Homo sapiens: one gene and its partners. The protein of the gene in region 1 purifies or fractionates together with the protein of each later gene. This does not show direct contact. Each region holds a gene or a part of one and is shown on either strand. Other genes may lie near its edges.

Region 1 (3,500 bases):
GTGGAGCCGATGTTTGCTTTGTGTTTCTTATTGTGGTTCCTTGTTTCAAAATGATCACAGGATCCCAAAGGCTACAGAACAAACAATCCCCAACATATCTTCCTTTAGGCTCCTGTGTCTTCAACCGGGAGTGTGTTAACGGAGGAAGAAAATGTGATACTACTTCTAGTGTTGTCTCTACAACTTGTCTAAGATCCAAAATGCAAATTCCCAACTTTCCCTGTTATCAGCAGACTGACCTGGAACAGGGTGATCCTTCAGGTGGGATGAGGTATATTAGGTCTGGAATGCTAAATTATTCACCGTTCTGCCCTCTGAGGAGGAGAAGGGAATGAGAAGGGGAGAGGGTTGCTATGAACGAACCCTTAATATCAGATCCAGAGTGGCTCACCCACACAGCCATGCCCGCGTTCTGTGGGTGCTCGAGTCTCAGCCTTTTAGATATTCAGTCCCTAAAACGGCGACTACACACAGATACACCTTCGCATATTTAAAGTGTGGGATTCACATATCCCATCCTGTTTCTTCAAATCAGGTATGCTCTTGTGAGCGTACATCCTGTTCTTATAAATAGCCCCACGGTGACCAGTGCAATGCACAGAATGGAAAAATATTTGGAAATTCACCAAGCTCTAATCTCAAAATAAGAGAATGATCAAAACTGCAGGGCATGTGAAGACTGAATAAGACTTCATTGACTCTTAGGGTAATTGTTATACAATGACCCAAATGGGGCAGTAGATACTATTTTTTAGGAACTGGCATACAATATATGTAGGGAAAAAAATCCCTGTGAGTCTTCTTGGGTTCTCCCCACAGAAGGTGGACAATCCCGGCCAGTATTTGTGGCAATTTCCCCCACTCTTCCTCTGACAGAGGAACAGCCTGCCCAGCTTCTGCTCTTCCTTCCGCAGAAGGACTCGGCGCTTTGCTGTGCTGAGAGGCTAAACTCACTTTCTTTCTGAGGCAGCAGAAGCCATCTCCATGGAAACAAAGCTCTCGCAGAGCTCCCGAAGAGTGGGAATAACTTCCAAGATTTCCCGTAATTTCTTGTAGAGGAACTTGTGGCAGTTTTTTTTGTTTGTTTGTTTTGTTTTTTTCAGACGGAGTCTTGCTCTGTCCCCCAGGCTGGAGTGCAGTGGCGCGATCTCGGCTCACTGCAAGCTCCACCTCCCTGATTCAGGCCATTCTCCAGCCTCAGCCTCCCGAGTAGCTGGGACTATAGGCACCCGCCACCACACCTGGCTAATGTTTTTGTATTTTTAGTAGAGACGGGGTTTCACCGTGTTAGCCAGGATGGTCTCAATCTCCTGACCTCACGATCCACCTGCCTCGGCCTCCCAAAGTGCTGGGATTACAGGTGTGAGCCACCGCGCCCAGCTGTGGCTGTTTTTGCTGTGCTTGGAGAACAAACCACAGAGCAGTCTCCTCTGGAATGTATTCGGTGGGTGCCTGTGTGTGTGTGTGTGTGTGTGTGTGTGTGTGTGTGTGTGTTGTAATCACTGTGCTGTATCGGAAATATTCTAAGTCCTGGAAGTACCGATTTAAAAGTTCACACAATAAATGCAGCTAGGAAATGTTAGTACTTTTCTTAATCCACTAAGAAATATCCCCACTTACGTTTGGAGGGTGTTCATGTGGTTTCATGTGTTGTTACCTGTATGTATAATTTTAATGATTCAAGTTATTTAGATCCATATGCAGGAAACAGAACCCAGACAAGGCAGTGATAACACTGGCCACATTCACACTCTCTTAGGCTGGTTCTTTGAGCGGTGTGATCAAACGTGAAAGCTCAGTGTTCTGTAGAGGCAGGCTGGTGCTGGGAGGCACCCACTACTTCAGCATGAGAATGCTGGTTCTTCGTTCGGGATAGAGCAGGTTAGTGATACAGGATGGGGGCAGGAAAGTCCTGGGTGGAGAAGAACGGGGTCCCTGGCTAGGGCTCGACCCCTGGGCCTGTGCCCATGGACCTACGCATTTCTGCTTTTGTGCCCAAATGTTGCATTTCCCAAGACCACCGTGGCCTGCCACACTCCCATCCTATGCCTATAAAAACCCCAAGACCCTAGCGGGCAGAGACCAAGCGGCTGGATGTCGAGAAGAACACACCGGCAGAAGAGCACACCAGCAGACACAGCAGACGCCAGCAGGCCATCGACTGGCGGAATGACACGGAGTTTGCTTGGGGTGGTCAGGGGAGAGCCCGGTCACTGGGCAGCCCAACTCCCAAGGGGAAAACTGCCTTCCCACTCCATCTCCCTTCTGGCTCCCCCATCTGCTGACAGGTATCACCACTCAATAAAAAACCTTGCACCCATCCTCCAAGCCCATGTGTGATCTGATTTTTCAGGTACACCAAGGCAAGAACCCAGGATACAGAAAGCCCTCTGTCCTTGTGATAAGGCAGAGGGTCTAATTGAGCTGATAAACACAAGCTGCCTACGGAGGGGTAAACTGAAAGAGCTCCCGCACTGTAACACACACCCTCTGGGGCTTCAGCTGGAAACATTCACCCCCAGACACTGCCGTGGGGTCAGAGCCCCATAGCCTGCCGGTCTGTACACTCCCCTAGAGGTTTGAGCAGTGGGGAACCAAAGAAGCGAGCCACACCCCCATCGCACACCCTGCGAGGGGGACAAGGGAACTTTTCCCGTTTCAACAGGTCTCTATTGCATTCTACACAGCTGTCCTAGAGGATGAACAGAAGGACACCAGGCTACTGAGCTGGCTCTGGAGTCACCCTGGGTTCAAATCCCAGCTCTACGTTCTCCAGCCCGTGGCCACGATGGGGTTAGTAATAGGATCCATTTCATAGGGTCGTCATAGAGAGTAAGACCGTAAAGCTCCGTACCTAGCCCATGTAAAGTCCACAGTAAGGGTTTGCTGCTGTTGTCCTGAGACATCATGAGATGTCTTAGAATTCTGGACTTGAGACACACGGCCTGGGGGCGGCAATGCTTCTGTCTGCTGGAGTGCCAGGTGAGAGGCCTGATGTATCCAGTTCTTATTAATCATTACTTACGGGAAATGGAGTTGATGGAAAGATAGCAACCCCTCCCACCACCCGGAGCGTGAGTGATACCGCGTCATTCAGCAATAAAGCCCACATCTTTATGGGGACGCTATTTTTACATAACGCAAACGGTACAAAAACATAAATGCGCTTTTGGTACCAGAGTGTGCGATTCTTGCCCCGCGTGTGGGGACGCTGCAGATTTCTTCCTGGCTTTCCACCGCTGCAGCTGCAGAGCTCTCAGCTTTTCTCGGAGCTCCATGTTCTGCTCCCTCAAAGCATCTATATGACTCCGGAGTTTTCCATGAACATCAGCCCACAGAGACTTCTGTCTCCCAAGCTCTTGGTGGAGTCTGATGATCTGCTGCTGTAATGGCTGTTATTGGGAAGAGAACACCAGAAAAACCTCTCAGATGTCACAATGGGCACATTTATCTGCAAAATACTCAAGCCCTCTCTGATGTAAGACCAACACTATTTCTGG
Region 2 (3,500 bases), on another chromosome or scaffold:
GATTTCTTGGATATGACATAGGCAACAAAAAAAAAAAGCAAAAACAAATACGTGGGACTACATTCAACTAAAAAGTGTCTGCGCTAAGGAAACTTTCAGTCAACAGACTGAAAAGGCAACCTATAGAATGGGAGGAGATATTTGCAAACCATATACCTGGTATGGGGTGAATATGCGAAATACATAAGTAACTCCTATGACTCAAAGCAAACAAACACACTCAAATAGTCCAATGAAAAAATGCACAGAGAACTTGAATACACATTTCTCTAAAAAAGATACACAAATGTGCTAATAGATATATGAAAAGACGATTATCACCACTAACCATCAGGGAAATGCAAATCAAAACCACAGTGAGATATCACCTCATAACTGTTAAGTTGGCCATTATTATTTTTTTTCTTATTCATTTTTATTATTATTATTATTATACTTTAAGTTTTAGGGTACATGTGCACAATGTGCAGGTTAGTTACATATGTATACATGTGCCATGCTGGTGTGCTGCACCCATTAACTCGTTATTTAGCATTAGGTATATCTCCTAATGTTATGCCTCTCCCCTCCCCCCACCCCACAACAGTCCCTAGAGTGTGATGTTATTCCCCTTCCTGTGTCCATGTGTTCTCATTGTTCAATTCCCACCTATGAGTCAGAACATGTGGTGTTTCGTTTTTTGTCCTTGCGATAGTTTACTGAGAATGATGATTTCCAATTTCATCCATGTCTCTACAAAGGACATGAACTCATCATTTCTTATGGCTGCATAGTATTCCATGGTGTATATGTGCCACATTTTCTTAATCCAGTCTATCGTTGTTGGACATTTGGGTTGGTTCCAAGTCTTTGCTATTGTGAATAGTGCCACAATAAACATACCTGTGCATGTGTCTTTATAGCAGCATGATTTGTAGTCCTTTGGGTATATACCCAGTAATGGGATGGCTGGGTCAAATGGTATTTCTAGTTCTAGATCCCTGAGGAATCACCACACTGACTTTCACAATGGTTGAAATAGTTTACAGTCCCACCAACAGTGTAAAAGTGTTCCTCTTTCTCCACATCCTCTCCAGCACCTGTTGTTTCCTGACTTTTTAATGATTGCCATTCTAACTGGTGTAAGATGGTATCTCACTGTGGTTTTGATTTGCATTTCTCTGATGGCCAGTGATGGTGAGCATTTTTTCATGTGTTTTTTGGCTGCATAAATGTCTTCTTTTGAGAAGTGTCTGTTCATGTCCTTCGCCCACTTTTTGATGGGGTTGTTTTTTTCTTGTAAATTTGTTTGAGTTCATTGTAGATTCTGGATATTAGCCCTTTGTCAGATGAGTAGGTTGCAAAAATTTTCTCCCAATTTGTAGGTTGTATAAAAGAAAAAAAAAGGTAACAAGTGGTGGTGAGGATACGGAGAAAAAATCCTTATACACTGTTGGTAGGAATGTAAAATGGTGCATCCACTATGGAAATCAGTATGAAAATGCCTCAAAAGATTAAAACTAGAAGTACCACATGATCTAGCAATCCCACTTCTGGGTATTTATACAAAATAATTGAAATCAGGATCTCAAAGAGATATTAGCACTCCCATATTCACTACAGTGTTATTCACAATAGCAAAAATGTGGAGGCCTGGAGCGGTGGCTCACGCCTGTAATCCCAGCACTTTGGGAGGCTGAGGCAGGCAGGTCACAAGGTCAGGAGATCGAGACCATCTTGGCTAACATGGTGAAACCCCGTCTCTACTAAAAAAAATACAAAAAAATTAGCTGGGCATGGTGGCGGGTGCCTGTAGTCCTAGCTATTCGGGAGTCTGAGGCAGGAGAATGGCATGAACTCGGGAGGCGGAGCTTGCAGTGAGCTGAGATCGTGCCACTGCACTCCAGCCTGGGCGACAGAGCCAGATTCCATCTCAAAAAAAAAAAAAAAAAATGTGGAAACAACCTCACTGTCCATCAACGGATGAGCAGATAAAGAAAATGTGATATATATAGACATATAAAGGAATATTCAGTCTAAAAGGAGAAAATCCTGCCATATGCAACAACATATATTAACCTCGAGAATATTATGCTAAGTGAAATAAGCCAGTCACAGAAGGACAAATCCTGCCTGGTTCCACTTATATGAGGAGTTTAAATAGCCAATCTCATAGACACAGAGTAGAATGGCGGTGAACTGCTGCTCAACAGCCATCAAGTTTCAGTTAAGCAAAACGAATAAACTACAGAGAGTTGCTGCACAACATTATACTACAGTTAACAGTACTGTATTGTATTCTTAAAAATAAGAGGATAGATCTTATATTGAGAGGTCTCACCACAATAATGATTTTTTTAAGTCAAACCCTGTCAGGAATTCAACTGAGATTCAGGAAAGCAAAAGACATGAGAAAGAACAAGAATAAAGTGGAGAAAATCGAGCAAAGGAGTAAATATCAAATGCAAGAAAACCAGAAATGTCAAAAGATGTATCAACAATTGACCAAACTGGAGATAGATATTAAGTAGCCAATGAACTGAACCTCCTAGCAAAAAAAAAAAAAAAAAAAAAAAAAAAAAATCAACAAGAAGAAGACAGGGAGAGTGTGGGCATGAGTGAGTGAGAGAGAGAGAGAGTGAGAGTGTTGTGTGTGTGTGTGTGTGTGTGTGTGTCTCAGCCATAACAGCAAACAAAACCACTGGGAATATCACGACTTGAGAATATTCAATACAAGGAATGAAAGCCCTGCCAATGTTCCCTAAAAGAACCTGGTATTTAAGGAAGAAACAATCCCCAGTCCAATATAATGTTCTGTGTAGTCTTCATGTAGGAGTCCAGGATCATCTCCACTGTGTTTTAACATCTGTATGTCCAGACTCTCCTTACTGTTAGACAGGTTTGGATTGGGGTCCATATTTTGAGAACATCTAAAAGCGATCCTCACCTACATGTGGCATGTGAAGCCCTGCTCGTCAAGAGTCAGTGCAGAAGTCACCAGCCGGTCTGGGGAATTACTTGTTTTATCACTGCACAAATGTGGCTAGCTTTCTTTACACCTTTGAGTTCCCAACATCTACCACAATACCTTGCACAGGGTAGGTTCCATACTGGCAAAGTGAAAAGGGAAAACAGAGGAGCTGTCTGGGGAAATGTGGATAGGAATCACCTATTGACAATTACTCTGAACATACTATCAGCTATTAGAGGCCAAGCAATGTGAACTCCACTTACTGCTTTTCTGAATTACGTAAAAACAAGAAGCTGTTAAGTATGCTCTTCCATCTGTCTTTTTTGTTTCCATGACAGAGATATTCAGCCAAGCCTTCCTTTAGTTGTGCTATTATCGCAGGACTTTTCTGTGCCCTCAGCATCTAATACTAAAAGTTTATTTTGTGATTTGACTATGAATTAGTGATGCTTTCTATTTGACATATTTCCATTTCCAATTGTGGAGTTTTTATTCACATTTACAAAATGGAGGTCTGGGATAAAGGACAAGTCTTTGGGAACTAAGTGGT
Region 3 (3,500 bases), on another chromosome or scaffold:
GTCCTGCAATTCTCCAGGAACAACTCAAACTTCACCAGGATAGCTTTACAACAGGTTCAGACATATTAAATTTGTCCCAACTTTGTATTTCAAAATGTGACAGAGCTGAAGCATGTACTCTAGGGTGAGGGCTTTACTGCCTAGAGATGAAACCTGCAGGACTGGGTGCGGTGGCTCACGCCTGTAACCCCAGCACTTTGGGAGGCCGAGGTGGGCGGATTACCTGACCTCAGGAGTTCAAGGCCAGCCTGGGCAACACGGTGAAACCCCTGTCTCTACTAAAATACAAAAAGTTGGCTGGGTGTGGCAGCGTGCACCTGTAATCCCAGCTACTCAGGAGCCTGAGGCAGGAGAATGGCGTGAACCCAGGAGGCGGAGCTTGCAGTGAGCCGAGATCCCGCCACTGCACTCCAGCCTGGGCGACACAGCGAGACTCCGTCTCAAAAAAAAAAGAAAAAGAAAAAAGAAATCTGCAGTTATTTGCTGCCTATTCAAACATTTGTTAGGCACCACGAAGACAGCAGCCTACAGGGGGAAGGTAGTCAAAGATGAATTAAGACATATATAGGCCGGGCGTGGTGGCTCACGTCTGTAATCCCAGCACTTTGGGAGGCTGAGACAGGCAGATCACCTGAGGTCGGGAGTTCAAGACCAGCCTGACCAACATGGAAAAACCCCGTCTCTACTAAAAATAAAAAATTAGCCAGGTGTGATGCATGCCTGTAATCTCAGCTACTCGGGAGGCTGAGGCAGAAGAATCGCTTGAACCCGGGAGGCGGAGGTTGCAGTAAGCCAAGATAGCGCCATCACACTCCAGCCTGGGCAACAAGAGCGAAACACTGTCTCAAAAAAAAAAAAAAAAAAAAAAAAAAGACATATACAACCCCTGCCACCATGAGCTCAATTTCTAATGGGGATTATAAGTCATATGTACAAAGGAAATCAAAGCAGAATGAGATTTAAATAAAAAAAAAAAAAGGAGGATAGAATCACTAAATGCAAAAGCTGGCAAGCACTTCAGTAATCACACTTCTATCCACACTTCTGGGACAGCCACAGACTCTTGGTACATACCTCCCCCATTTCTAACCCCTAAACTACAGAGAGCATAAACAACAAAGAAAACCAGAGGTTTTTTTTTTTTTTTGAGATGGAGTTTCACTCTTGGTGCCCAGGCTGGAGTGCAGTGGCATGATCTCGGCTCACTGGAACCTCCGCCTCCCAGGTTCAAGTGATTCTCCTGCCTCAGCCTCCTGAGTAGCTGAGATTACAGGCATGCGCCACCATGTCCAGCTAATTTTGTATTTTTAGTAGAGACAGGGTTTTACCACGTTGGCCAGGCTGGTCTTGAGCTCCTGACCTCAGGTGATCCGTCCACCTCAGCCTCCCAAAGTGCTGGGATTACAGGCATGAGCCACCACGCCCGGCCTTTTTTAGACGGAATCTCACTCTGTCGCCCAGGCTGCTGGAGTGCAATGGCGCGATCTCAGCTCGCTGCAACCTCCACCTCCCGGGTTCAAGCGATTCTTCCGCCTCAGCCTCCTGAGTAGCTGGGACTACAGGTGCGCACCACCACATCCGGCTAAGTTTTTGGATTTTTAGTAGAGATGCAGGTTCACTATATTGGCCAGGCTGGTCTTGAACTCCTGACCTCATGATCCGCCCGCTTCAGCTTCCCAGAGTGCTGGGATTACAAGTGTGAGCCACCACGACCCGCGAAAACCAGAGTTTTAAGCCTTGCTCTGACAATCAACTGATTCTCATGTTGATAATTCAGGGTGAACATCCCAGGAGAAAGGAATAAGAGTGTAAAGGCAGCAGGGAATTAGGCAGTCACAGAGCAGTAAACTGCCTCATTTGCCAGGGCATAGGATATGTGGAAGAAGAGTATGTGGTACAAAGAAAAAGGGTGATTAGAATCAGAGCTTGAGCCACATGTGGTGGCTCATGCCTGTAATCCCAGCACTTTAGGAGGCCAAGATGGCCAGATCACTTGAGGTCAGGAGTTTGAGACCAGCCTGGTCAACATGGGGAAACCCTGTCTCTACTAAAAATACAAAAATTAGCTGGGTGTGGTGGCAGGTGCCTGTAATCCCAGCTACTTGGGAGACTGAGTGAGGAGAATTGCTTGAACCTGGGGCATGGAGGTTGTAGTGAGCCGAAATCGGCTCACTGAGGGAGATCGTGCCACTGCACTCCAGCCTGGCGATAGAGTGAGACTTTGTCTCAAAAAACAAACAAACAAACAAAAAAAAAAACCAGAGCTTGAAAAGGCTCTGAATGCCCCACTAAGAAGTTCGGATCTTATTCCAAAAGCAGTATTTGATCTGAGGTAAAACAAGGGATATATTTCTAAACAAGCAACAAAAACAAATCACAAAAGACTGATAATAGCTGGTTGAAAGGAATTTTAGGAACCTCTTAATTCTTTAGGGGCAGATAATGGAAAGTATTCAATCCTTTTATTTCTCAAATATACCACCTAAATATCTCTACTATACGTACTATGCTAAGCAAGCTTTTTACATGTTTTATCTTTTTTATTTATTTGTTTTTGAGACAGGGTCTCACTCTGTCACCCAGGCTGGAGTGTAGTGGCTCACTGTAGCCCTGAACTCCTGGGCTCAAGCAATCCTCCTGCCTTAGCCTCTGGAGTAGCTGGGACCACAGGCGCAAGCCACTATGACTGGCTAATTGTTTTTTATTTTTAGTAGAGATGAGGTCTTGCTGTATTTGCCCAGGATGGACTCAAACTCCTGGCCTCAAGAGGTCCTCCTGCCTCAGCCTCCCAAAGTGCTGAGATTACAGGTACTGTGCCCAGCTACATGTATTATTTTATTAAGCTCCATGGAAGAGAGTCCAAGAGTCTGTCTCCTTCACCTCTGTATCCCTAGCACCCAATAAGTGTCTAGCATTTTGGAAGCAGTCCAAAAAATGTGCTGAGTAAATCCTCACAACAACCCTGTGAGGTAGACATTATTATCATCCTCACTTTATAGATGAGGAAACTAAACTTCGAAGAGGGGCAGAAACATGCCTGAGAACACAAAGCAGTGGCAGAGCCAGACTAGAATCCAGGTTTTCATACTCCTAGCCCAGTGACCTTTTCACTACACCACAATGCCACTAGAACAGAAATGTCTTAGTCACAGTGCTCTCCTCAAAATCCTTCCAAGGTTCCCCACTGCCTACAGAAGAAAACCTAACCAGCTCAGTGCCAGACATGAAGACCTTTGTCTCCTTTTTCAGCTGTTTTGCGGCTGCCAAGCATCCTGGGCCCTGCACTGCTCGTGGCCAGCTTCTTCATGGTCCCCATGTGTGCCATCTTGCTGCTTCAGCTAAGCCTTCACACTCCACCCTCTAAGCCCAGCCCATTCTCAGCAAGTTTCCACCTCTGAGCTGCTCTAGCAATGCTCATCTGTGCCATTCATCACAAGTTGTCTTCTGTTAGTTGGTTAGTTGGTGATTCAGAAACGTCTTTTTGTCTCCTCAACCAGGTT
Region 4 (3,500 bases), on another chromosome or scaffold:
GATGGTTTTGTAGGCTGACAGCAAGGCCCCTTTTTTCTGGAGAGTTTCTCCAAAATGTAATATCTTCAGCCCTGGCAATCATGGAACTTGAAGCTTGAAACCCATTATATTATCTCCCAATTTCTTTTTTAAAAACATCTCAGTGAAACCAAAAAAAGCCCTTTGATGTTTCATTGCCTACTAAATTAGGTACAAGTTCTGAACCTTGGCCTCTAAACTCTTCACCATGAGACTTCAACTGACGTTTCCAGTCCAGACTTCAACTGACCGTTCTTATGAGTTACCTTATCCTCCAGCTAAATTGGGTAGTTCCTAGTTGTCCATCACACTCTGTCCTCTTTTGCTTGTGCTGTTACAAACTATGCTGATATTAGTTTCTTTCTGCCTCTCGAAAGTCTACTTACCCTTCAGGATTTATATTTAATGCTGCCTCTTGCATGAAGCCATTCTTGAATTTCTCCAACTAAAATGTGATTTTTTTCCCTCCTTTGAGTCCCTGGGTTACATTGTAGCTCTTTTTTGTATACCTTTTATTTTCTGCCTCCTACTGTACTTATAGTTGTCATATCCATGTCTAGACTGGTTTCTCCTGGATAGCAGGGACCATATCTTACCCAGCGTTGTATTCCGAGGCCTGCAAGTACCTGATAGGTGTTCAATTAATATTTGAATTTAATTAAGTATTTTAAGACCCAGCAGGGTACAGTGGCTCATGCCTGTAATCTCAACATTTTGGGAGGTCGAGGTGGGCAGACCACTTGAGCCTAGGAGTTCAAGACCAGTCTGGGCAACATGGTGAGACCCCGTCTCTACCAAGAAAAAAAAATTAGGGCACGGTGGTGTGTGCCTTTAGTCCCAACTACTCAGGAGGCTGAGGTGGGAGGATTGCTTGAGCCCAGGAGATGGAGATTTCAGTGAGCCATAATTACGCCACTGCACTTCAGCTTGGGTGACAGAGTGAGAACCTGTCTCAAAAAATATATATGTTCCAAGACTCAAGTTTACAGTTGGAAAGGATGCATGGGAAGACAGAGGGTAGCTATGTGTAATGGCTGCTCAGTTCTTAATAAGGTTGTTCAGACACTAATAAAATTCAGCCACTTAAAAGAGATATGTAAACCATGCCTGACTTAAGTATCTTGCTTAAAGTGTTGAATTCAGTTACTTTAAAACAAGATAGAGAAATGAGAAATGTCTTGTAGGGAAAAAAAAAAAAAAAAAAAAAGCAATTGCTGCTCCATCACTTCACTTTCAGTGACCTTGAGCTGAGTAATCTTGTGGTGGTGTCACTCTGTGCCTTCAGGTGCGCCATTATGAAAAGCAGCTGGACGAAACCGTGGTCAGCTGCAAGAAGGCACAGGAGAACATGAAGCAAAGGCATGAGAACGAAACGCACACCTTAGAAAAACAAATAAGTGACCTTAAAAATGAAATTGCTGAACTTCAGGGGCAAGCAGCAGTGCTCAAGGAGGCACATCATGAGGCCACTTGCAGGCATGAGGAGGAGAAAAAACAACTGCAAGTGAAGCTTGAGGAGGAAAAGACTCACCTGCAGGAGAAGCTGAGGCTGCAACATGAGATGGAGCTCAAGGCTAGACTGACACAGGCTCAAGCAAGCTTTGAGCGGGAGAGGGAAGGCCTTCAGAGTAGCGCCTGGACAGAAGAGAAGGTGAGAGGCTTGACTCAGGAACTAGAGCAGTTTCACCAGGAGCAGCTGACAAGCCTGGTGGAGAAACACACTCTTGAGAAAGAGGAGTTAAGAAAAGAGCTCTTGGAAAAGCACCAAAGGGAGCTTCAGGAGGGAAGGTAAGAAAGTGAAGGGAAATGAAGCTACCTGGGGCACCATCCCTCGGGGCATTAGAAGTGCCAGTTGTGGCTGGGCGCGGTGGCTCACGCCTGTAATCCCAGCACTCTGGGAGGCCGAGGTGGGCGGATCACGAGGTCAGGAGATCGAGACCTGGCTAACATGGTGAAACCCCGTCTCTACTAAAAATACAAAAAATTAGCCGGGCGTGGTGGCGGGCGCCTGTAGTCCCAGCTACTCTGGAGGCTGAGGCAGGAGAATGGCGTGAACCCGGGAGGCGGAGCTTGCAGTGAGCCGAGATCGCGCTACTGCACTCCAGCCTGGGCGACAGAGCGAGACTCCGTCTCAAAAAAAAAAAAAAAGTGCCAGTCGCTTAAGAGACTTGAAGAAGTCAGAAGGCATAATAGCCCATTGATTGAGTAGACTCTTTTAAATATTTTTTTACTGTTTTTGCCATTATTTTGATGTGAACCTACCTTGGGATGATTGGAACTGTTTTTATTTTGTTATGTTTGTAAAAGAGGAAAGTATTCCTCGTATTAAGATTTATTCTACCTTATAAGGCTCAAGAGGAGGATAAGATTATCCCAAAAGTGGTTCCTTCCTAGTTCAATCCTGTTGCTTTCTGAGAAAAGCTATTAATAAACTGGATTCCAGGCAAGGTTACATTTCCTCCCAGAGTTAAGAAACAGCACTCCATGCTTACATTCCTCATGTGAAATCCCAGGTTTATTTGAGGGCTTTGTTTCGTCACACGCTGATTGACTTGGTGCTACTTCGTTAAGTAAGAAGCAAAAGCAGAATGAATTTGTTCATATGTGTCATTTATGTGACTGATATCCTATAACGCATGCTTAATTAAAATGAAGGAATGGTATATATTTCCCAAGTGAGGAATTAGATTAATATACATTTGGTCATTTGTCTTTGGTTTAAAAATCCATAAACAAATACATCCGGGAGTGTGCCAGAGAAATTAGTTTCTAAGATTTCCCCCTAACTCCAGAGAGAGGTAAGTCTTTTAAATGAATTATGGCTGCCAGTCTTAGCTTTCAGAAATGAGATCCCTTTCCAGTATAAATGAATCACATAGGAGTAAGTTAAGAGCATTTTTAGGGAGTATTTCAGTTGTTTGCTCAGCAGCTTTCTCAGTGCATGGGAAAATGGTTTTTGTTTGCTTCTGGAGTTGGCGGCAGTTTCAATAATGCTGTATGTTGACTATATTTAGGGAAAAAATGGAAACAGAGTGTAATAGAAGAACCTCTCAAATAGAAGCCCAGTTTCAGTCTGATTGTCAGAAAGTCACTGAGAGGTGTGAAAGCGCTCTGCAAAGCCTGGAGGGGCGCTACCGCCAAGAGCTGAAGGACCTCCAGGAACAGCAGCGTGAGGAGAAATCCCAGTGGGAATTTGAGAAGGACGAGCTCACCCAGGAGTGTGCGGAAGCCCAGGAGCTGCTGAAAGAGACTCTTAAGAGAGAGAAAACAACTTCTCTGGTCCTGACCCAGGAGAGAGAGATGCTGGAGAAAACATACAAAGAACATTTGAACAGCATGGTCGTCGAGAGACAGCAGCTACTCCAAGACCTGGAAGACCTAAGAAATGTATCTGAAACCCAGCAAAGCCTGCTGTCTGACCAGATACTTGAGCTGAAGAGCAGTCACAAAAGGGAACTGAGGGAGCGTGAGGAGGTCCTGTG
Region 5 (3,500 bases), on another chromosome or scaffold:
TCCAGATAAAAGAAAGCACAGGAAAAAGCAAAAGAAATCAATGATATGAAGGTAAGAAAGAAGCTGGCAAATTCTAGGAACTGTCAGAAGTTAGCAGGATTGAAGCTGGCTAGTTATCAAACCGTAGAATAATAAGAGATAGATTGGAGAGAGTCAGAAATCAGGTCATTCAGAAGAATGAGAAATCATTAAAGGATCAGAGGAGTAACATAATTCAATCTGCACTTTGAAAAGAACATTCTGTCATGTATGAATGGATGGGAGATGACAAGAGGGGCAAGCTGGGAGACCAGTGATACTAAGTGATGGATTAACAGTGGTTATCAGAGCAGCAGAATTTTAAAAATTAATCTCCATTTTTTCTTTTCTCTCTATATTTCCAAGTGACCCAAAACAACAAATATGTATTACAGTTACAGTTCAAAATAGGGATATCTTATATTTCTAGAAATAAGTAAAAACAAAAAGAAAAAAGGAAAAAAAAAATGTATGTCAAGTGCATTGGTAGGGAAGCTGTTAAGGAACCAAGTCAATGAAGTAAGAGAATCATTACCCTTATCTGATTACATACTTATTATAGGTACCTACCTCTCCTTGAAAATATATTTCTTTTTAATATAAAAGTGGTAGTAAGCCTAAAGGACTCTAAAGAAAGATGTCCCTCCTCTCCAAATTTAGATATTTAACAGTTTGCTGTTTGTCCCTCCAGATATTTTCTGTTTATACAAACACATTTTTTAAATGTACATATTTTTTTAAATGTATGTAAATATACAAATGGGTCTGATAGGTCAGAAGTTCCCAAACTGTGTACTAAGGCATGCTGCAGCAAACTTACAGAAGCACCTCAGGATATTTTCAATCTTCAGGGAAAATAGTGATGCTCAATAGCCCAAGGTAGTTCAATTTCAAAACGATACTGAATTACATTTCTTTTCATTATGACATTATCTTTGCAATCTGGATTTTCAGAAGCTGAATTTTCAGTGGTTGTTTGGTCTTAAGTTCTAATGCATGAGACTACTAGTGGTTCTTTGGGTGCAGAGGCAAAATGGAAATTAATTACTGAGACATTAAGGGCACTGTGAACCAACAAAGTTTGGAAACGTCTGTGGTAAGCCTTCGACAAAAAGTATTTTCACACAACATATTTGATTCAATTTAACTGCCCCCTGCTTCTAGTTCCTTTCCTTCCCTATACCCCTCACTCTGGTCTCTAATTCATCCTATTGCTGTCATTCAGGTAACCTCACAAAAACCCACTACTCCATCTCACCCCTAAGATAGTCCTTCCACATTCTACATGCCAGATGTGTATTGCTGCCTGTAATTGCATGAACATTTCCTACATTTTTCTGATACTCCACCTGTGTTAAAACCATTCCTTCCGCATATGTGCACACATGTGTATATATCTTAACATATACACAGGTATCAATATGTCCACATTATATTATCAAGAAAAAAAGCACTAAGCATACTGTTTCTGCAGCTAAACTCAATAGGTATTTATGAAAATAATGTGTTTTTGACATATTGTACATAAACAGATAATGTTTACATATGCACAGAAAAAAAAACACTAGGAGGATATATACCATAATACTAATACTGGCAAACTTGTCCAACCCACCTTATTTTGTTGTTGTTTTTGTTCTGTTTTGTTTTGTTTTGTTTTGTTTTAGGCTTTTAGCGGCCTGAAGCCATGGTTTTTAGTTTCTGTCTCTAGTGATAAGCAGAAAACAGGGATGAGGAAGGGGATTTCCTGCCCCAACCAAAAACAGAAACTAAGAACCCATGACTGTATTCTCACCCTTGGACACCCTAGAGAGTGTACTCCTGCCCACATTTCAATACACAGGATAAATCCCATCTCTCCCATAAAAACCTTCCCAAAGCCCCCTAATCAGAGTAGCTCTTTTCCCTCCAATACTATCATACCTTTGCTTATACCCCTATTACTATATTAAGTAGCCTGCTCTGGATCAGTTACTTAAATACAAGCCTTTCTCTTCTACTACATAGCGAACACCTAGATCTATCATCCTTTTACATGTTTCTTCCCACAGTACCTAGTATAGGACAATGCCTATTTGAAGTATAATATTCCCTGAACAGCTGTTGAGTTTATATATCAATTAGGTATTAAAATATACCCAACATCTAACAAAAAAAGGTCATTTAATTAATTTTCTGCAAACCTTTTGATTGAAGAATTGAGGGAGAATGTTGTAAGAAGTCTCCAAATTTCTGTAGTGTTCCTTCTTTTTTCTTAGTGGCCAGGTTTACACCAATTATGGATGCCTGACTCCGTAAAGAATATGTTTTCTTAGATGATGGACGTATGGCAACCTAATAAACAAAACATTTTTTGTTATTGTTGATGAGAAGTGTTAGAAGGAAATAGTTATGGCCACAGCTGAATTAAAGAGGCCAGAGACAGGTTATGAATTCTCAGGTAGGAAACTTTAAGTATGTAAGGACAGGGATAAAAGGGTCAGACAATGGCAAAAAGAGTTTGACAGGCAGAGTGTTAAAGTCAGAAGTAAACACATAAAGTAGATGCTACTGGCCAAATGCTAAAGGTTACATTTCAACTGAATCAGATGTATAGGAAAGAGAAGATAAATGAGTTATAATTGAACACAACTGGATTTCTGGATAATTGCTACAATTTTGGACAAATTAAAAGACACACCTTTTGTTCCTTTTTGACAGAAGAATTTCTATCATCTGAAATAGGAAATTTCAAATTAGTTCTGGGTGTAGCATTCTTCTTATTTTCACATTTCACCAAGTCCTAAAAATAATGAATTTTAGCACCAGTTAATTTCTTGACAATATTTTATTTCTCTAGACTCAAAAAAGAAAATTTGTAAAAAGCTACATTATCACTTAAAACAGTGACTCTTAACCGAGGGCAATTTTGAACTCAGAGGACAATGGCAATGTTTGAAGATATTTTTGGTTGTCTTTGCCAGGGAGAAGGGGATATTATTGGCCACGAGTGGGTAGAGGTCAGGAATGCTGTTAAACATCCCTACAATGCACAGGATAGATAGCCCTTAAAACAAAGAGGTATACAGCCCACAATGTCAACTGTGCTGGAGTTGAGAAACCCTGACTGAAGGTGTGAATTTTTCAAACATATCACAAGTAATGAAATTACATAAGCTAAATGAAAAACATGGAAGGAATATCTTTTATTTGAAACTGAGCTTTAAAATACAGCATACAATATACCTACCTATTGCCTAACTCCCAAATAATACAAGCATCTATGTCTAAGTTCTCTCATTGACATTTGACAATATCAAAAATAAAATAAAAACGAAACTTCAAATAACCAAAGGTAAAATGTTAAAACTTTTAAAATATTATCTTTCTTCTCTACAACATGGGTATGGCATCTTACTCTTCTTTTCCCCAAATAACCTCACATAGGACAAAGCCCTTTACAGATATACTCACTGACTTGAACTGCTGCAAATCCTAGTTGT
Region 6 (3,500 bases), on another chromosome or scaffold:
AGTTTTAAAGACAATATTTTGTCCAACCACTCTCAAATAAAGGTCCAATAAACTCAGGCTACTCCATTTATCTTTCAGGTAGAGCGATCCTTTCACAGTTTATCGAACCCCTTTAAGCAAGCTGTGAGTTCATAAGAGAAGGGGAAAGTTCTGGACAAAGACCTCAAACGCCAAGATGATGTTCCAGCATGCCTTCTACCACCACTTATTAACCTTTGAGTTTTGCCAAATGCTATTAACTTTTACAGAAAAATATTTAACACACAAGAAAACCTGAAGGGGCTGGGGAGAAAAAACAGATGCATTTGCCCAACCAGATTATTAAACATATATATTAAAACAGACAGTAATTTTTGAAGTATGATTTTACCACTGGAAGAGACAGAGAGAGAAAATAATTAAGAGCCCTGAAAGAGAATGAATCATATATGAGAATTTATTAAGAATGAGTGTGTGGTGGCTAATGACTATAGTCCCAGCTACTTGGGAAGCCAAGGCAGGAGGATCACTTGAGCCCAGGAGTTTGAGTCAAACCTGGGCAACGTAGCAAGACTCCAACTCTAGAAAAATAAATAATTAGTAGGTAACATATTAGTGGAAAATAGGCACTTTAATCAATATATAACATATATTATTAATATAGTTAGCTAGCTATCTGGAGATGGAGGTAAGAGTAAAGAACTGAATTTCTATCTTACTCTTTAGATCAAAGTAAATTCCAGATGGGTCAAAGATTTTAAATAAAAAACAAGGACAATTAGGATAGGAATGAAAGAAAATATAGGTAAATGTTGTGATCATCTTCAGGTGCAGAATTAGTCTCAAAACATGATACCACTGCCACACAAAAATGCAGCACTTCCATAAGGTGCCACATATCACAAATTACGACTGGGAAAAATATTCAAAATACATCAGACACTTAGTACTCTACAAGTACAAAAAGCTCTTACGAATAAGGTAAAAATCCTGGAGTTGGGCACAGTGACACACACCTGTAACCCCAGCTGCTTGGGAGGCTGAGGCAGGAAGATCGCTCGAGGCCAGGAGTTCAAGACTGGCCTAGGCAACATAGCAAGACCCCATCTCTACTTTTTAAAAAAAGATCCCAATAGAAAAAAAATGCAAAGATTAGGAAAAGGCAATTAACCGGATACATATGAGTGGCTGATACATCAATTCTGCCTTGATGGTAACCAAGGGAAAGACATCACAACATGGGATGCTGTCCAGCTACCACCGGCAGCATCAGTAGGAATGTGAACTGGCCAGCATGGTCAGGAGAGTCTGTGATGAGAGTGTGCCCCTGACCCAGCAGTTTAATTTCTAGGAATTTATCCTCGGACTTTTAGACTAACATACAAAGATGTATGGAGCACAATGTTCCTTATAGTGTTTCTTGTAAATGTAAATACCAATCAACAGGGGATTGTTTAAATGAGTTGTAGCAAATCCACAGAACAGATGACACAGACAATAAAATACATACATTATGTTACTGGAACAGAATGATCTACAACATAGCTAGAGGAGTTTATACAGCAGCAAGGCTAGTGCAGAGCCATTTTCATAAGAGTCCATCTGTATAAATCTGCACAAATGTATGCATGTTAAGTTACTTCCAAAGGGGTAGCCAAATTATCAGCAGTGCTAGGATTTCAGGTGATATTTAATCCTGCTGTTACATTTATTGATATTATTAGAAATGTACAGATAACATATATTTTATGAGAACAAAAGAGTAAAAAGGAGAGTAGATTATATAATCTTACATATATAATGTGATGCCAATTTTGTTCAGAAAAGGTATAGATCTAAATTTTTTATAAAACAAATTGTAAGATTTTTTATTTTTATTCTTATTTATTTATTTATTTATTTTTTGGAAATGAAGTCTTGCTCCAGGCCGCGGTGCAGTGGCATGCAGTGGTGTGATCTTGCCTCACTGCACTCTCTGCCTCCTGGGTTCTAGAAATTCTCCTGCCTCAGCATCCCATGTAGCTGGGACTACAGGTGCACACCGCCATGCCCAGTTAATTTTTTATATTTTAGTAGAGACGGGGTTTCACCATGTTGCCCAGGCTGGCGTCGAACTCCTGAGCTCAGGCAATCTGCCCGCCTCGGCCTCCCAAAGTGCTAAGATGACAGGTGTGAGCCAACGCGCCCGGCCAAGATTTCTTATATATTTTACATCCAACTGGTTTATCTACAGAGGAATGTTTTCTGACTCTGTGCCTTTGACACTTCCACAACAATATTCTGCTCCTCAATAAGGAAAGCACACTTGATCCTGTCACGAACACACTTAGCACACACGGAACCACCACAGGCCCTGCTGACATGTGTTTCTGTTTTAGGGAACCTCACAAGAACTTCAGGTCTCATAGCACGAACTCCTCGAAGTCTGGCTAGGCACATGCCACATGCAGGTTCAGGTGTTTTCCCAACCTTCTTGATGTAAAGGTGAATAATTCTCCCACCAGGGGCTTGGGACTACCTAGTTTCACTAGAGGCTGCGTGTCAAAGGCTGGGCCATTCTGAATGCCAGCTCAAAGGACTGTCCCTGGGAGCTCTAGGCTCCCTCAATGGCAGCCAATTGTAAAGGAAATAAGTGTTTTATTCTTTTTTTTATTATTATAAGTTCTGGGTTACATGTGCAGAACGTGCAGTTTTGTTACACAGGTATACACGTGCCCTGGTGGTTTGTTGCACCCATTAACCCGTCACCTACATTAGGTATTTTATTCTTTAAATATTCTCATACCACAGTGAACATCTAATCTTTTATAATAAGAAGGAAAGAGCTGAGGACTTTGATGTGTGACTTGGCAACGTCTTCCTGCTGCCCTAACTCACCCTCATGCCGGGCATTCCTTTCTACGAACAGGGCTTTCCCAGCTCACACGCCAAAGCCTTAGGCCTCTAAATGGGTTTGAAAGCATCACAGTGGCAGGAGACAGCAGAAGCAGACTAAAAATGGCAGCCTCCTGTATCTTGGGAGGTGCTAGAGTAGATTTTAGGACATGAAGATGTTTAGAGAGCAGCACATTCGTACCTGCATAGCCACTGGAAAATCATTCTGTGCCTCTGGAGGAAAAAACACATCTACTGCTTTCTTTACAAAAGGTTGGTTTCCCGCTGCAGGCTGTCCAACTTCAATGATGTGCAACTAGAAGAGAGATTTTAGGTCAATCAAGGGGACCGCCTGTGGTGGTGGGCAAGTGCTAGTCAAGGCACAGAGGCAAGTGGAGCCTCAGCTCCACACACTGGATGATTAACGCTAAAAGTCACATTCAACCAAAGCAGAACAACCCCCTTGTCGGAGTGCCTGTGATTATCCAATAACCTGCTGCCCACCACCAAGCATGGCACAAAGGGCCAATGCCAGGCAGCCTGGAGCCTCAGTTCCAGCACAGTGGCAGAGTCACTTCCCCTCCCCGGGCCTGGATGCCGATGAAACAAAGGGCTCCAGTCAGAATCTGCTGTCCCTTCCAACTCTG
Region 7 (3,500 bases), on another chromosome or scaffold:
TGTCCAGTTAGTCATATTAATCTGAAATAACAATCCAGTAACTAAAAATAAATACTTCAACTAAACACTAAAGACTGAAAAAAAAAAAAATCACATGGCAGTAGAGAGGTTAGACCTTTTGGGATATAACCACCTTTTCTTCTGAGATGTTTAATCACTCAAAACTATAAACTATGAATAAGGACAGTTTCTTCTGTCAACCCCTTAACTCCCAAATTCACTATTTTATGACCCATAGTTAGTGACTCTGCTAAGAACATACCATGCTCTTTGCTACATTCTTACCTCTCCAATGAAATGTCCTAATTCTGAAAAAGCCCCGTTCAGCCAACTACACATCTCTCAGTCACCATCCCTCCCCTCCCCACTTCGGAACCTTCCAGGGCCTGCCCAACTGTCCACTTCCTCTACCCAGCCAGAGTTCATTGTTCTGGCTTGGTGTTTCCACAGGATACAAGACACAAAACCAAATTGTAAATGATTTTTAAAATTGCTTTCTTATTCTACTTCCCTGATCATGTTCTTACTCTGCTTAAAACCCTTTAGTAATCTTCACACAGAAGAGAAGTGCTTTTCAAATTACCAGTTGCTAACACAGCGTCATTAAATAAATTGAGTGGGTCACCATCATCAGTCTATCTTAAAAATAAAATAGAACGGAACAGAATAGAAACTACCAGAGTGTACCATACAAAGCAAGGGTATTATGTAGTGACATTTTATCATTTATATACAAGCATATTGGGTTGCAATGTAAAGATGCTTATCTTTCCAACGGGTCATAGCCAAAAAAACCTCTAAACACACTAAACTACAGGATAATCCAATCTTTCATTTGATCTACATGGTTCTCCAACCCAGTCCCTGCATAATAAGGCTCTAGACCTATCTCTTGCTACACCAAAGGGAGCTAGCTCAAGCAAACAAGCTTGTCATGCCAAACTCCTTTGCAGTTCCTCGTTTTAGTGGTGTCAATCACTGTTCTCTCTGCCTTGAATGCCCTCTTATTTGTCTAAGAGGCTCACTTGTACTCATCTTTCAGTATTTAACAACTATCACCTCCTCTACAAAGCCTTTTTATCCTTCCCTCAGCAGCTAATGCCCCCCCAACACACACTTTGTGTCTCCATAATGCCCTACATTATAGCTCCTACAAAATTTCATTGCACATTTTAATTTTAGGCTTGACTGTCTGCCCAACTTCCAAAGTATAAACTCACTAAGGGAAGGAGCACATTGTATTGGCCTTCCTATCAGCAGCACTGAGGTAAGTACACGCACTATAACAAAGGTTCAAAGTTGGTAAAATGAACAAATGACGAATTAAGGACTTGCATCTAAGTTGTCTATTGTCAGATATGATAGGGTGGTTATCTTTGCAATAAAACCCATTTATAGTGCTGGATCAAGATTTTCACATTTTTGCTACAACCCCTAGAGAGCAGAACCCTGCAGTTTGAGGCAGAAGGAGGTGTCAGCTTCCCATCTTTCAGCAAAGAGACTCAGTTTGGGCTGCAATGTAGCAGCACTCATTTCCATGCTTCTGGAAGTTATTTGGGGAAAGAGGGGAAGGAAGGACTCCAGAAGTTCCCATAGGCAGGTGAGATAAATCAGAAACAGCATTAACAGATTCCATTAGCAGGGAGAGCCCCATTTTATGTATAAGTAGCTCTTAATAAGGGAAGGGAGGGAAAGAATTCTTTACCATTGCTGATGGCACTAGGTTGCCAAAATGAGCTAAGTAAAAACAAAGGGTTTCATGAAATAAGTGGTTGAAGTTACTTGATTTCTGTTGCCTACTGTGATAGTTCTGAAATAGCTACTGACTCACTGCTGTCATTATGAGATACTATTTGGAGGTGGGGGTGGGGGTCATACCTAACAGGGGCTCCTCACTGAGGCTTCAAAACTTTTCAGAGACTTCATTTTACATACATGAATGCCTTAATTTTTAGGGGATCTGATACACCTATTTTACAAACCCATACTTTAGTTGCCTTCACTGCAATTAACAGTTCATGCAACATCCAAGATACTTTGACAGACTTTGCCAACTGTCAAGTTTCAGCTGTTCTTCTCCATTTCCAAAAAGTTCATAAACTACTATTAGGGGAGCCATAATTTTTTTCTGCCCAATCACTGATTTTATTAAAAATAATTCCTTTGCTTAGACTGCCCCTAGACTTGCAATAATTATCTACAATTAAGACGAAGATAAATCCTTATTATAACCTAACATTAGTTTAAAAAAAGAAGGTTGTAATATGTGAAACACTTTACCCACAGTATTAAATTTTAGATATCTATTACAGTAAGGTAATTATGGATTGCCAAGGTAAAGCTTTAAAAGCCATTTAAAGCCCTGTTTCCTTTTGCTTGAAATAGGTCCAGGCAGCTATGCTAATTCCACAAACATTTATTAGGCATAAATACGCATAAAGTGTGGAAACGTCAGCAAATGCCTTTGCTGTATGCTCTTCTACTTCCATCTACCCTTCCTCTCTCTACTCAAGTCACTATCAATGAGAAAGGGTCATAGCCCCAAATACAGGCTTTCCAAAAAAAAAAAAATAGCACCACAAAATGCTCGCTCCTTTTTCTCCTCAGTCCATATATAGAACTTTATTAACTAAAGGGCAGATACATTCATTTATAAACAAATTAATTATGCTAAGTGTCTAAATGCATGTTATGTGTGGTGCTAACTTTCCCACTTTAAACAACAGCCCCCTTAGTATTAAATTCATCCTGTCTCTTCAGATTCTAGGCGCTTCAGGAGCCGCGCCTTAAGGTGCAGACATGGCCAAGTCCAAGAACCACACCACACACAACCAGTCCCAAAAATGGCACAGAAATGGTATCAAGAAACCCGAAGCACAAAGATACGAATCTCTTAAGGGGGTGGACCCCAAGTTCCTGAGGAACATGCAGTTTGCCAAGAAACACAACAAGAAGGGCCTAAAGAAGATGCAGGCTAACAGTGCCAAGGCCATGAGTGCACATGCCAAGGCTATCAAGGCCCTCCTAAAGCCCAAGGAGGTTAAGCCCAAGATCCCAAAGGGTGTCAGCCGCAAGCTCAACTTGCCTACACTGTCCACCCCAAGCTTGGGAAGCATGCTCGTGCCCGCATTGCCAAGGGGCTCAGGGTGTGCTGGCCAAAGGCCAAGGACAAGGATCAAACCAAGGCCCAGGCTGCAGCTCCAGCTTCAGTTCCAGCTCAGGCTCCCAAAGGTGCCCAGGCCCCTACAGAGGCTTCAGAGTAGATATCTCTATCTGCCAACGTGAGGACAGGACTGGTGCGACCCCCCGCCAGGCTGCCATCTGCATGGGGCTGTGGGGCTGGGGTCCTCCTGTGCTATTTGTACAAAGAAACCTCAGGCAGGGAAAAAAAAATTCATCCTAAGCTTCCCTTGGTAAAATGACAGGCATTCATGCAGCTTAAAGGTTCTGGAAAACTGATTTTCTTCCATGATGCTACTACTCCACAGTCTAGACAAAAT

The links.
Region 2: the proteins of TCP10L (region 1) and CCDC6 purify together in Homo sapiens (affinity purification with mass spectrometry; 2 studies listed by BioGRID and IntAct, with this or other methods). This does not show direct contact.
Region 3: the proteins of TCP10L (region 1) and KIF2C purify together in Homo sapiens (affinity purification with mass spectrometry; 2 studies listed by BioGRID and IntAct, with this or other methods). This does not show direct contact.
Region 4: the proteins of TCP10L (region 1) and NIN purify together in Homo sapiens (co-immunoprecipitation; 3 studies listed by BioGRID and IntAct, with this or other methods). This does not show direct contact.
Region 5: the proteins of TCP10L (region 1) and KIF20B purify together in Homo sapiens (co-immunoprecipitation; 3 studies listed by BioGRID and IntAct, with this or other methods). This does not show direct contact.
Region 6: the proteins of TCP10L (region 1) and CLTCL1 purify together in Homo sapiens (affinity purification with mass spectrometry; 2 studies listed by BioGRID and IntAct, with this or other methods). This does not show direct contact.
Region 7: the proteins of TCP10L (region 1) and HOMER1 purify together in Homo sapiens (affinity purification with mass spectrometry; 2 studies listed by BioGRID and IntAct, with this or other methods). This does not show direct contact.

The regions. Positions count from the first base shown.
Region 1 is NC_000021.9:32,579,024-32,582,523, forward strand, and holds part of TCP10L (T-complex protein 10A homolog 1), read right to left. Parts: intron 3,393-3,500; coding exon 3,177-3,392; intron 1-3,176. Other genes in the region: CFAP298-TCP10L (uncharacterized protein LOC110091775), read right to left, coding at 3,177-3,392. UniProt on the Homo sapiens protein: May be involved in transcriptional regulation. Has in vitro transcription inhibition activity. Acts as a tumor suppressor in hepatocellular carcinoma (HCC) cells.
Region 2 is NC_000010.11:59,795,057-59,798,556, forward strand, and holds part of CCDC6 (coiled-coil domain-containing protein 6), read right to left. Parts: intron 1-3,500.
Region 3 is NC_000001.11:44,742,837-44,746,336, reverse strand, and holds part of KIF2C (kinesin-like protein KIF2C), read right to left. Parts: intron 1-3,500. UniProt on the Homo sapiens protein: In complex with KIF18B, constitutes the major microtubule plus-end depolymerizing activity in mitotic cells. Regulates the turnover of microtubules at the kinetochore and functions in chromosome segregation during mitosis.
Region 4 is NC_000014.9:50,758,163-50,761,662, reverse strand, and holds part of NIN (ninein), read left to right. Parts: intron 1-1,303; coding exon 1,304-1,806; intron 1,807-3,032; coding exon 3,033-3,500. UniProt on the Homo sapiens protein: Centrosomal protein required in the positioning and anchorage of the microtubule minus-end in epithelial cells. May also act as a centrosome maturation factor.
Region 5 is NC_000010.11:89,767,590-89,771,089, reverse strand, and holds part of KIF20B (kinesin-like protein KIF20B), read right to left. Parts: intron 2,801-3,500; coding exon 2,699-2,800; intron 2,353-2,698; coding exon 2,202-2,352; intron 1-2,201. UniProt on the Homo sapiens protein: Plus-end-directed motor enzyme that is required for completion of cytokinesis. Required for proper midbody organization and abscission in polarized cortical stem cells.
Region 6 is NC_000022.11:19,236,220-19,239,719, forward strand, and holds part of CLTCL1 (clathrin heavy chain 2), read right to left. Parts: intron 3,170-3,500; coding exon 3,056-3,169; intron 1-3,055. UniProt on the Homo sapiens protein: Clathrin is the major protein of the polyhedral coat of coated pits and vesicles. Two different adapter protein complexes link the clathrin lattice either to the plasma membrane or to the trans-Golgi network.
Region 7 is NC_000005.10:79,507,635-79,511,134, forward strand, and holds part of HOMER1 (homer protein homolog 1), read right to left. Parts: intron 3,384-3,500; exon of another isoform or gene 2,753-3,383; intron 1-2,752. UniProt on the Homo sapiens protein: Postsynaptic density scaffolding protein. Binds and cross-links cytoplasmic regions of GRM1, GRM5, ITPR1, DNM3, RYR1, RYR2, SHANK1 and SHANK3.